Linked DNA regions of Homo sapiens: region 1 is linked to region 2. The links come from fine-mapping of genetic effects on gene expression. A gene starts in region 2. The other region holds a variant in brackets. All regions are shown on one strand. Distances are between the middles of the regions. Region 1 overlaps C1QTNF1 (C1q and TNF related 1). Region 2 holds the start of LGALS3BP (galectin 3 binding protein).

What was found. PIP is the estimated chance that this variant, and not a neighbour inherited with it, causes the effect.
Region 1: its variant is the best candidate, but not a certain one, in a credible set for the expression of LGALS3BP in whole blood (INTERVAL, PIP 0.57).

Annotation. Positions count from the first base shown.
Region 1 is chr17:79,038,784-79,044,150 of GRCh38, reverse strand. C1QTNF1 (C1q and TNF related 1) reads right to left here. Exons shown (of 4, transcript NM_030968.5): 2 at 28-196. The coding sequence starts at 182. Among named protein-coding and RNA genes, the nearest start is that of C1QTNF1-AS1, 14 kb to the right of the region's middle. RefSeq lists an enhancer at 1-186. The variant G/A (reference allele first, on the strand shown) is at 2,692.
Region 2 is chr17:78,977,330-78,982,696 of GRCh38, reverse strand. It overlaps LGALS3BP (galectin 3 binding protein), which reads left to right and starts at 2,774. Exons shown (of 6, transcript NM_005567.4): 1 at 2,774-2,873. RefSeq lists an enhancer at 1,748-2,740.

The DNA.
Region 1 (5,367 bases), 61 kb before region 2:
TGCTATTACACCCTCGTGGCCCCTCACCTCTCGGCATGGTCCGGAGGCGACGGCAGCTCCTCAGTCCCCTCCCACTCCTGCTGTTCCCCCTGGACATGGGGCACACGACTCAGGACCAGGCCAGAGGCAAAGGCAAGGAGCAGGCAGTACGCCAGCAAGAGTCCCTGTCCACGGGAGCCCATCTTCCTGCCGGGCCCTGGTGGGAAAGAAACACACAGGGAAGGCACCGAGTTAGGAAGGAGCTGCACAGAGAAACAGCCTGAAAATTGGGGAGAGAAACAGCCTGGAAATCGGAGGTGCTTCCCCAGCCTCACGCCACTGGGAAATGCTGCAGTTACACAGCTTCTGGGAGGACAATCACTCTCACACACCCATGCATGCATACACGCACTCACGACGCACTCACGTGCACACACGCACATGCACACACATTCACATACATGCAACCCCCACACATGCACACACTCAACACACATGCAATCCACACATGCACACACAGTCACATACACTCACATGCAACCCACACATTCACATGCACCCAACACACATGCAATCCACACACATGTAATCCACACACATGTACACACAATACACATGCACAGTCTCAACAATGAAACCTACACACATGCATACATATACCCACATCACATGCACACTCATGCAATCCACGCACCCATATGCACACTCTTAACACACATGGAATCCACACGCTCACATGCACACAGTCAACACACATACACTCACACTCACATGCACATACATGCACATACACAGTCCACACACATGCACTCACACATGCAATCCACATGCTCACATGCACTCAACACACATGCACAACTCACATGCACACATACCCAAATCACATGCACACTCTCAACACACATGCACACACATGCATACATATACCCATATCACATGCACACAGATTCACACACACATGCAATCCACACACATGCACACTTTTACATGCACTCACACACATATACCATCACATGCACTCACATGCAATCCAACATGCACACACATTCACATACATGCAATCCATGCACACATGCACACACATACACACATGCAACCCACACACACATGCAACCCACACATGCACACACATTCATATACATGCAATCCACACACATGCACATTCGCATACATGCAATCCACACATGCACACTTTCAACACACGTGCACACATTAACATGCACACATATACCCACATCACATGCACACTCACGTGCACGCCCGCATACTCTCAACACATTCACATGCATGCACATCCACTCATGCACACATGCGCTCACATGTACACACACCTTCACATGTGCGCACACACTCTGCCCCCAGAGCCTCAGCCAGTCAGGCTGGTGTTGAGGGGTTGCTGAGCAAGGTGCTGTCTCTGCCCACCCAGCCTCTCGGGAAGGAGAGTCCATCAGCCGCTGGCCCCACAGACAATTGTATACCACCCCTCTTAGGACAGTAAGAAAAATCCCAAGCAAGCTTTGAATGATCATCATCCCTTAACTCAAAGCAAAGCTGGCTCAATGACCAGGTCCTTCACCGGTGGGTAGGTGGGTAGGAAGGTGGCTGCAAGCTGCTTTCTGGCCACCAGGCGGCGCATCAGCAGGTGTCCTTGGCATCTACTTTAGGGATGTGCCAAGCCCAGCCCCACAGAGCAGTCATCCTTCCAGGAAGCCAACCCCACGTCTCACTCCCAGAGCTTTTGGCAAAAGCTTGGGGCAGGACCCCCTCCATCCAGTATTGGGACAGTCCTTCTAGAAAGGGGTGCTCACGGAGGTGGGGAGTCCAGGGAGCCCGCGAGGGGCGGCACTTGGGCCCACATTAGGCGAACGCCCACCTGCCACCCTGTGAGCGGCTTGCTCCCCTCGCCCAGGAATCTGGCATCAGGAGTCGCAGGCCCAGCCGTTTCAGGTGGGCCGAAAACCTCCCCACCGAGGGGCACAGCGACTGTGGTCAACTCTAACCCCTCTTTGTTCACCAAAATGTAAAACTCGAAATGTCGCAGGCCCCGTGGGAACACCTCATTCAACACACAGCCGCCCAGTGAGAAGGTGGGTGAGAAGCGTCCCTCACTCCTGGCTGCCAGGCCGGCGTGGACTCCAGCTCTTTCTTGAGAGGCAAACAGTGAAAGCAAGGGCTCATCTCCAAAGGCCCTGGGCCAGACTCTTTCTCCTCTAACTCCTCTTATGTCTAAGGAAAGTTAAAATCCTGACAGATTTCTTTCTCTGCCCATATTACACACCAAGATGACCGCGACGTCTTACTCATCTTGGGAAGCCGGGAATTTCTTCCACACACACCGTCGCTCGGGGGCTTTGGAGCCTCTGCGGGGGATGTCTGTAGCGGGCTTTTTTTTTTTTTTTTTGAGATGGAGTCTTGCTCTGTCACCCAGGCTGGAGTGCAGCAGTGTGATCTCGGCTCACTCCGCCTCCTAGGTTCAAGTGATTCTCCTGCCTCAGCCTCCCAAGCAGCTGGGATTACAAGCATGCGCCACCACGCCCAGCTAATTTTTGTATTTTTAGTAGAGACGGGGTTTCACCACGTTGGCCAGGCTGGTCTGGAACTTCTGACCTCAAGTGATCCACCCACCTCGGCCTCCCGAGGTGCTGGGATTCCAGGCGTGAGCCACGGCCCAGGACTTTAGTGGGCTCTTGAGTGAAGTCTGAAGGGCTCCCC[G/A]CAGAGCCCTCACGCCAAGTCAACATTGCAGGGGAAGATCTGGAGTCCAGGGCTCTCCCGATAGAGCCTCCGAGGTGACAGTGAGGAGAGCAAGGCTGGCCCCCCCGAACCTCTCTCCTCCCCTGTCACACATACCTACACCCAGTCTTCACCACCTTGCATGGCCCACGCCCCATCTCTGCAGTGGCTTAGCTGGAGCCCCCACCTCCAAGTGTCCTACCAGCCAGCTGTCCCTCCCATGCGTCAGGGCCCAGAGACCGTCCCAATGACCAAGGAGCTGCTTAGGCCACAGCCCCCACCCAGAATCTCTGATACCTCCCACCACTTGCCAAAAAAAGGGTGTATGTGCACATGGTAATTTATAAAATACACATCTAAGTTCTCTCTCCAGCTATCCGTCTAGTTAGGTTTGAGAACATTTCCTCATTAATAATTTTTATCCCATCACGGATGGCCCCACAATCCTCTAGGGAGACAATATACATTCATGACTGTAGCAGATATGTAAATGAGAAAACAGAGACTTGGAGAAGCTAATTAGCCTAAAATTCTGATTTTTTTTTTTGACAGGATCTCACTCTGTGAGTGAGTGCAGTGGTGCAATCTCGGCTCACTGCAGCCTCTGCCTCCTGGACTTGAGCCATCCTCCCACCTCAGCCTCACAAGTAGAAGGGACTGCAGGTATGCACTACCACACCCAGCTAATTTTTTTTTTTTTTTTTTTTTTTTGTAGAGACAAATTTTCACCATGTTGCCCAGGCTGGTCTCAAACTCCCGGGCTCAAGTGATCTGCCCACCTCAGCCTCCCAAAGTGCTGGGATTACAGGCGTGATCCTCCACGCCGGGCCAAGACTGATTTTTGAGCAGGGGGGCTGCATTTGGACTCAGACAGGCTGACAACAGATGACAATAAAATCCTGCCCGCCTTGTCTTCAACACCCAACTCAAGGTCTCATAGTCTTCCTGAAGCCTTCCCAGGCCCCTCAACTGGGAAAAATTCTCCATCCTCGGTCTTAGTTTTCTTTTTTGATACAGGGTCTCACTCTGCCTCCCTGTAGCCTCAACCCTCCCGGCTCAGGCCATCTGCCCACCTCAACCTCTCAAGCAGCTGGGACTACAGGCATGCGCCACCACGCCCAGCTAAATTTTTTTGTTGTTTTTTCGTAAAGACACGGTTTCACCGTGTTTCCCCGGCTCGTCTCAAACTCCTGAGCTCAAGCAATTCACCTGCCTTGGCCTCCCAAAGTACTGGGATTATAGGTGGGCGCCATAATTTTATTTTTCCTATTGTCTCCTACTGCAGAGAGTTTGTCTAGCCTATGAGAGTCTACTCAGCAGACCGTGGGTGACCTCCTCCAGGGCTGGGACGTCCCCTAGCCAAGCATCCTGCAGCACCCTGAATCACTGGTGCTCAGCAAATATTTGTCAGACTGAATTCTCTAAATTTGTTTATTTCTCCATTTCTGTATTTCCTCTGTTTCTCCTTGGTGCCTTAATAATTATTCTGTTTTTTCCTTTTAAGTGGCAAACTTGTACCAGTTAAAAGGAAAAGAGATTTTCCTTTCTTTAAATATTTTTTTCCTGAATCCCAAATTTTATATATACACATACACATGTTTACATATATATACATATATACATATTTACATATATATATATATACACACACACACACATATTTATTTAAGAGAGGTTGGAAAGTAACTACAAAACGCATTAAAAAGCTACCTTGGATTATTCTACTCTGTGGTTTCTCAACCCTGGCACCATTGAAGGATTGCTGGGTTTTTTTGTTTTATTTTATTTTGAGACAGAGTCTCGCTCTGTCACCCAGGCTGGAGTGAAGTGGCGCGATCTTGGCTCACTGCAACCTCCGCCTCCCAGGTTCAAGTTATTCTCCTGCCTCAGTCTCCCTAGTAACTGAGATTATATGCGTGTGCCTCCACACCCGGCTAATTTTTGTATTTTTAGTAGAGACAGGGTTTCGCCATGTTGGCCAGGCTGGTCTTGAACTACTCCTGACCTCAGGTGATCCATCTGCCTCGGCCTCCCAAAGTGCTGGGATTACGGGCGTTTGCCACCGCGCCAGCCAACCCTGGCACCATTGAGGTTTGGGCCTAGATAATCCCCTGTGGTGGGGGGCTAGCCTGTGTGCTGTAGGATGCTTAGCAGTAACCCTGGACTGTCCCCACCAGATGCCATTAGCACCACTACCTCTAGTTATGACAACAAAAAATGTCTCCAAACATGGTAATATGCCTGTTCCTCAGGGGCAAAATTGCCCCTAGCTAAGCACCAGCATTTGTTTTTATGTTGGTCTATCTCTTTCTAGTCTAGCAAAGGGATTTTCCACACCTTGGTCAGAAGAGACGGGGTCCAGGATGCAGCTGGGTTAGGAACGATGCTGTCACTGGGGTGGGGTGGGGCTGGGAAACCCCAGCAGAGAGCCCCAGGCTCAGGCTGGTAGGGACAAGGCCACTTTGGCGGTGGTGGCTCTCCTCAAAAGCCTGCTGTTCGGAGTCAGAGCAAACCCAGGTTGAAATCTTTCCTTCCTGAAAAGATCTTAAGAAGCATTTTACCAAATCCCACAGCAAAGCCAGCGTCATAACATGATGATCATTTTAGTCACTTTTGGGCAAAGACAGTATTGCCCAACATCTAACCAAACTTGGCTCC
Region 2 (5,367 bases):
AGCCACATGCAAAATATTAAATACTGTATGATTCCATTTAGAGGGAATTCTAGGGTCCAGGAGTGGTGCCTCATGCCTGTAATCCCAGCACTTTGGGAGGCAGAGGCAGGCGGATCACCTGAGTTCAGGGGTTCGAGGCCAGCCTGGCCAATGTGGAGAAACCCCTTCTCTACTAAAAATACAAAAATTAGCTGGGCGTGGTGGTGGGCGCACCTGTAATCCCAGCTACTCGGGAGGCCGAGGCAGGAGAATCACTTGGACCTGAGAGGCAGAGATTGCAGTGAGCCGAGATTGTTCCACTGCACTCCAGCCTGGGCAATGGAGGGAGACTGTGTCTTAAAAAAGAAGACAAAATAGAGGGAATTCTAGGAAAGGCAACCAGCAGTGGCAGAAGCTGAGAGGTGGTTGCTGGGAAGGGGCTGGGGGGAGGGGTGGCTGCAGAGGGGCATAAGAGAATTCTTAGGGGTGATTGAAACGCCCTAGGTAATGATTGTTGTCATGATACCATCGCTACACATTTGCCAAAACTTTGCACGTAAATTATATGCCAAGAAAGCCAATTTTTAAAAAGAAGGAAAGGATGGGTTTGAAACCCCAGTTCTTCCCCTACCAGCTGCACAACTTTAGCCGATTACGTCGCCTCACTGAGCCTCTGTTTTCTCATCTGTAACAGGGAATATAAGAGCAGCTGCTTCCCATCATGGCTGGAAGTATTAAATGCATTCATTTGTGGCAAGGCTTATAGTAATGCCTGGCGAAATCCATATTAGCTATTATAGGGAGCGTTCCTCAATTTGCGGAGAGGTTTGGGGTAGAGGCACAAAAGATGACCTTACAGGCCAGTTAACCATTCTCATCTCTGAAATGCCCCGCACTTTCCCTACCATGTCTTGGGAGCGGCTTCCTGATGACAGCAGTTCTGTCCACACGAATCTGAGGCTTTCACCCAGCTGTCTTCTCAGAGCCGAGCCGCTGCCCCTTCCCCTGCCTGTCCCCTGTCAGCGCTTCCCTCCACCCCATGGTCATCGCACACCGGAAAGGCCTTGCGAGCCCCAGGGGAGCAGATGTTGGTGCTCCGATTCCACGAGGAGGCCTCTGGGTTTTCCATTTTACCTGCCTGGATGGCTTAGGACTTTCCCGGACTCTGGGGCTAAAGATTCGGCACCTGAGTTTTAAAACCTTTCCCAGCACTTCCCAGAGATGCCCTCCCGTCCTCTGCACTCCTGTCCTTCCCTGGCCACTTGGGCAGAAGTCATTAGCACTGCTGAGAAGGGATGATGCTGGGGTTTCTGTGCACTCAGGCCCTTAATCCAGATGAGATTTTTTTAAACTCCCCACAGCCAGTTCTATTTCCAGCTGCACCTGCCCCTGGATCTTCACAGTTCCTCTGGAGGGGATTAGGCAAACCGTGCAGCTGCCTAAAACCTCACACCTTGAAGGAAATAGTCATTGAATGTCTGACCTCTGGGCTGGCTGTCTCGGACTCTAAGCTGCCAGGGAACCAGGGCCTTCCACCCAGTGGGACTGCCTGGGGGCTTTTAAATGCCCCTGCCTGTCCCCTACTCCCAGAGATGGTGACTTCCTGGGTCTAGGCATTAGGAGTTTGTAAAACTCCCTGATGATTCTTCTGTCCAGCCCAGGCTGAGAACCACTGGTCAGAGGCCTGGGCACATCCCAAGGCTCATCCAGAACCATGGGGTGCAAGTGACAGAAACAAGAGCGGCTGCTGATTGCCTCACTGAGCGGTGAAGCCCAGCCTTGACCATGGATTAGGCCAGCTGGACCCAGGAGCTCAGGCCGGAGGATGCCTGCTTCCCTCTGCTCTGCCCCACCGGCCCCAGCAGCCTGGGCCCACATCCTCTCAGTCAGAAGCTGGCTCTCACCGGCTGGCTGGGCTCACAGCCCCACCCTGAAACCAGCAGTGTGGCCCGGGGCCCCCGCAGGGCTCAGACAGCCAGGCCTTGGGTGGTTGAAGGCCAAGAGCTGGGGGCCCTCTGGGAACCACACAGCCGGGAATGGGAGGGGGTGCTCCCCAAGGGACAGTTGAGGTGCCGGCTTTCAGTGGGAGGAAAGGGAATGGGTATGAGCTGGACAGAGCCATTATGTCACCCAGAGAGGCTCTGTCCCCCGCCCCGCTGAGGGGGAGACAGTAGGAGAGTGGCCACAGGTCCAGCAGTGGCGAGCACAGGCTCTGGGGTCAGGTGTTGGAGCAGGGTCCAGCTCCTCCACTGGCCAGCTGCATACCTGGTTCTCAGTGCCTCCCTCCCCTGGGGACAGGGGACAGTGCCATGCAACCTTGTGGGGCACAGGCCCTCTGTGTGGTCAGCATGCCAAGAGCACAGAGAGGGTGGATTTGCACATAAGCAGCCCCCTGTGTGGTGTTCACCCAGCCAGCAACGTGCTAGACCCAGGAAAAGACTCGGAGCGCTCTGTCAGAGTCCACAGCCACACCACCAGGTGCAGACTGTCTGGGCCCAGAGCCTCTGCTTCTTCCCCTCCCGTCCACCAAACGCCAGCCCCTGACCAGCCTGGCGGCCTTTCCAACTGAGTGTGGCTGTTAGTCCTCTTGCAGGCCTTGCTCCAGCCAGACTCCCACCTTGGGCCTCTGCCAGCCTGGCACTGATAGCCACAGGCAGAGCTGAGACAAAAGAGAGGGGCCCTGGGGAGTATCAGCAGCAGCCAATCCCGGAAGACATCTATGTCAGGTGGTTTCTGGAAATCGAAAGTAGACTCTTTTCTGAAGCATTTCCTGGGATCAGCCTGACCACGCTCCATACTGGGAGAGGCTTCTGGGTCAAAGGACCAGTCTGCAGAGGGATCCTGTGGCTGGAAGCGAGGAGGCTCCACACGGCCGTTGCAGCTACCGCAGCCAGGTAAGCTCCTGCCTCTAGCTCTCAGGTGGGCACCCCTCTCAGTCTCTCTCTCTTTTTTATTTTTATTTTTTTTGAGACAGGGTCTCACTCTGTCACCCAGGCTGGAGTACAGTGATGCAATGTCCGCTCACTGCAGCCTCTGCCTCCTGGGTTCAAACGATTCTCCTGCCTCGGCCTCCCAAGTAGCTGGGATTACAGGCGCGTGCCACCACGCCCAGCTAATTTTTGTATTTTTAGTAGAGACAGGGTTTCGCCATCTTGGCCAGGCTGGTCTCAAACTCCTGACCTCTGGTGATCCACCCGCCTCGGCCTCCCAAAGTGTAGGGATTACAGGTGTGAGCCACCGCGCCCGGCCAGGGCACCCCTCTCTCTACACAGGCAAGTGGGGGTCATGCCTCCCTGTTTGCACATAGGCCTGGAGCTGGGGATCCAGGGCTCCTGAGTCCAGCAACAATCATTGCTGCTCCCAGGCCCACAGGGCCTCTGTGTACAGTTGGGCAGATTACTCACTGCACAAGGATACCAGCCAAAGGGCAAGTGGGTTAGAATTCAGCTTGGCCCTCTCTCAGACCTGTGCATTTGGCCTAGGCCTGCACCCACTCCAAGGAAGAGCACCTTTTTTTCTGATTTGCACGAAGGGGCCAACACAGGCAGCCGGGTCTCAACTGTATGAAGGAATCAGGCAAAAATAGCCGCTGCCACACAAAGGGCAGCGACGCCACCTGCCAGGTGCTTCGTTGCCCCCCCCCCTTTTTTTTTTGAGACAGAGTCTTGCTCTGTCACCCAGGCTGGAGTGCAGCGGCTCACTACAATCTCTGCCTGCCGGATTCAAGCAATTCTGTTGCCTCAGCCTCCTGAGTAGCTGGGACTACAGGTGCACACCACCATGCCCAGCTTATTATTATTATTATTTTGTATTTTTAGTAGAGCCGGGGTTTCACCATGTTGGCCAGGCTGGTCTTGAACTCCTGACCTCAAGTGATCCACCTGCCCCAGCCTCCCAAAGTTCTGGGATTACAGGCGTGAGCCATCGCGCCTGGCCAGTTGGCCATTTTTCCAAGGCCCTGAGTTACTCTCCCAGGACGGACAAACCTAGTGGCTGCAGCAGAGTGAAGTGGCTGGGGGCAGAAGTGGAGAGGGCGTCCACCCATACCGGCGTGCCTGGGACTGAGGGGTTTCCCAGGACACAGGGAAACTTCAGTGCTAAAACCAGCACAGTCCCCAGCACACAGGACAGGCGGTCACACCCTGGCCCCTTTAGCCATCTACTGACATTGACACAGGGAGGAGAGGTGGGCTCCCCCGAGCAGACCCCCTGCCTGTGGCTCACTGACTGTGGATGTGGAGCCCATTTGCCTCTCTGGGTGTCAGCTCATTCACTTGTAAGGTGAGGTGTAACTAAGGTGGTTCTCAGGGTCACGGTAAGGCCTCCAGTGGTGCCCGGGGAGCCCCGACAAGGGGTGGCTGCACAGTGCCAGCGAGCACGAGTCCCAGAGCAAAGCTGCTCACCAGCCAGTGCACCCAGCTCCCAGGGCGCTTGTTCATGCAGACTCCCATGCAGAGGGGCTAGGGCAAGGCCAGCCATGACTGCATTTCCGACAAGCTCTGGGGATGCCATTGCAGCCGTCCACCAGGCCCCCTCCAAGCAGCCTCAAGGTCACCAGGCCCAGACTCCCAGCCGGTGCCCACAGCAGTGCCACCCAGAGGCCTGCCCCAGGCTTGCTGAACTGAGGGGACAGTGTCAGGTATCACAGGATTCTTACCGAGCCAGAGAAACCATAACTGTCTCTCCATTGGCAGGGTGTGGGGGAGGGAGGCAGACGAAGACAAAAGCGTGGAAATTACACGGAGGCAAGAACACCAGGCCAGAAGGTGGAGACCCGGACCTCCCCAGTCCTGGCCTGAGTGTCAGTGTCTTGGGGATACTTCAGCATTTCCTCCCTGTTCTTCCCCCAGCCTGGCCCACCCTGGGCTGCAGCCCTGACCCTTTTCATCTATCTTCCCCATCGGAACACCACGGAGCCCCGATATATCTCCCTGCCACTTATCTCTGTCACCCCTCGCCCGGATTCTGTGCCCTCTCCTGACGAGTCCCCTCCCATCCACTCTCCAGGCTGCAGCCTCGTCTCTGCCTGCTGAGACCCTCTGGGACAGTCCCTGCAGGGGTCTGTTGCCTGAAGCTTAAGGCCGAGATCTTAACCAGGCTCACCCGGCCTCCCGACCTGGGCCCACGCCTGTGGCCTCCTCCATCTCCCCGCCCATGCCCGTGTGGCAGCCTTGCCCGGGGCCTGGTTTTTTGAGATGAGCTCACTTGCCTCTAGTCACCAATTCTTGCTGCCCTTACTGCCAGGGGGTGCCCCCAGCCCACGCTTCATCTAGCCAAGTGTTACACATCCTTCCAGGACCACACTGCAGACCAGGTGAGGGGCCCCCGCGGGGGCATCCACAGCACACGTCACACTTACTGGGATCATAGTGGGCTCTGCAAGAGAGG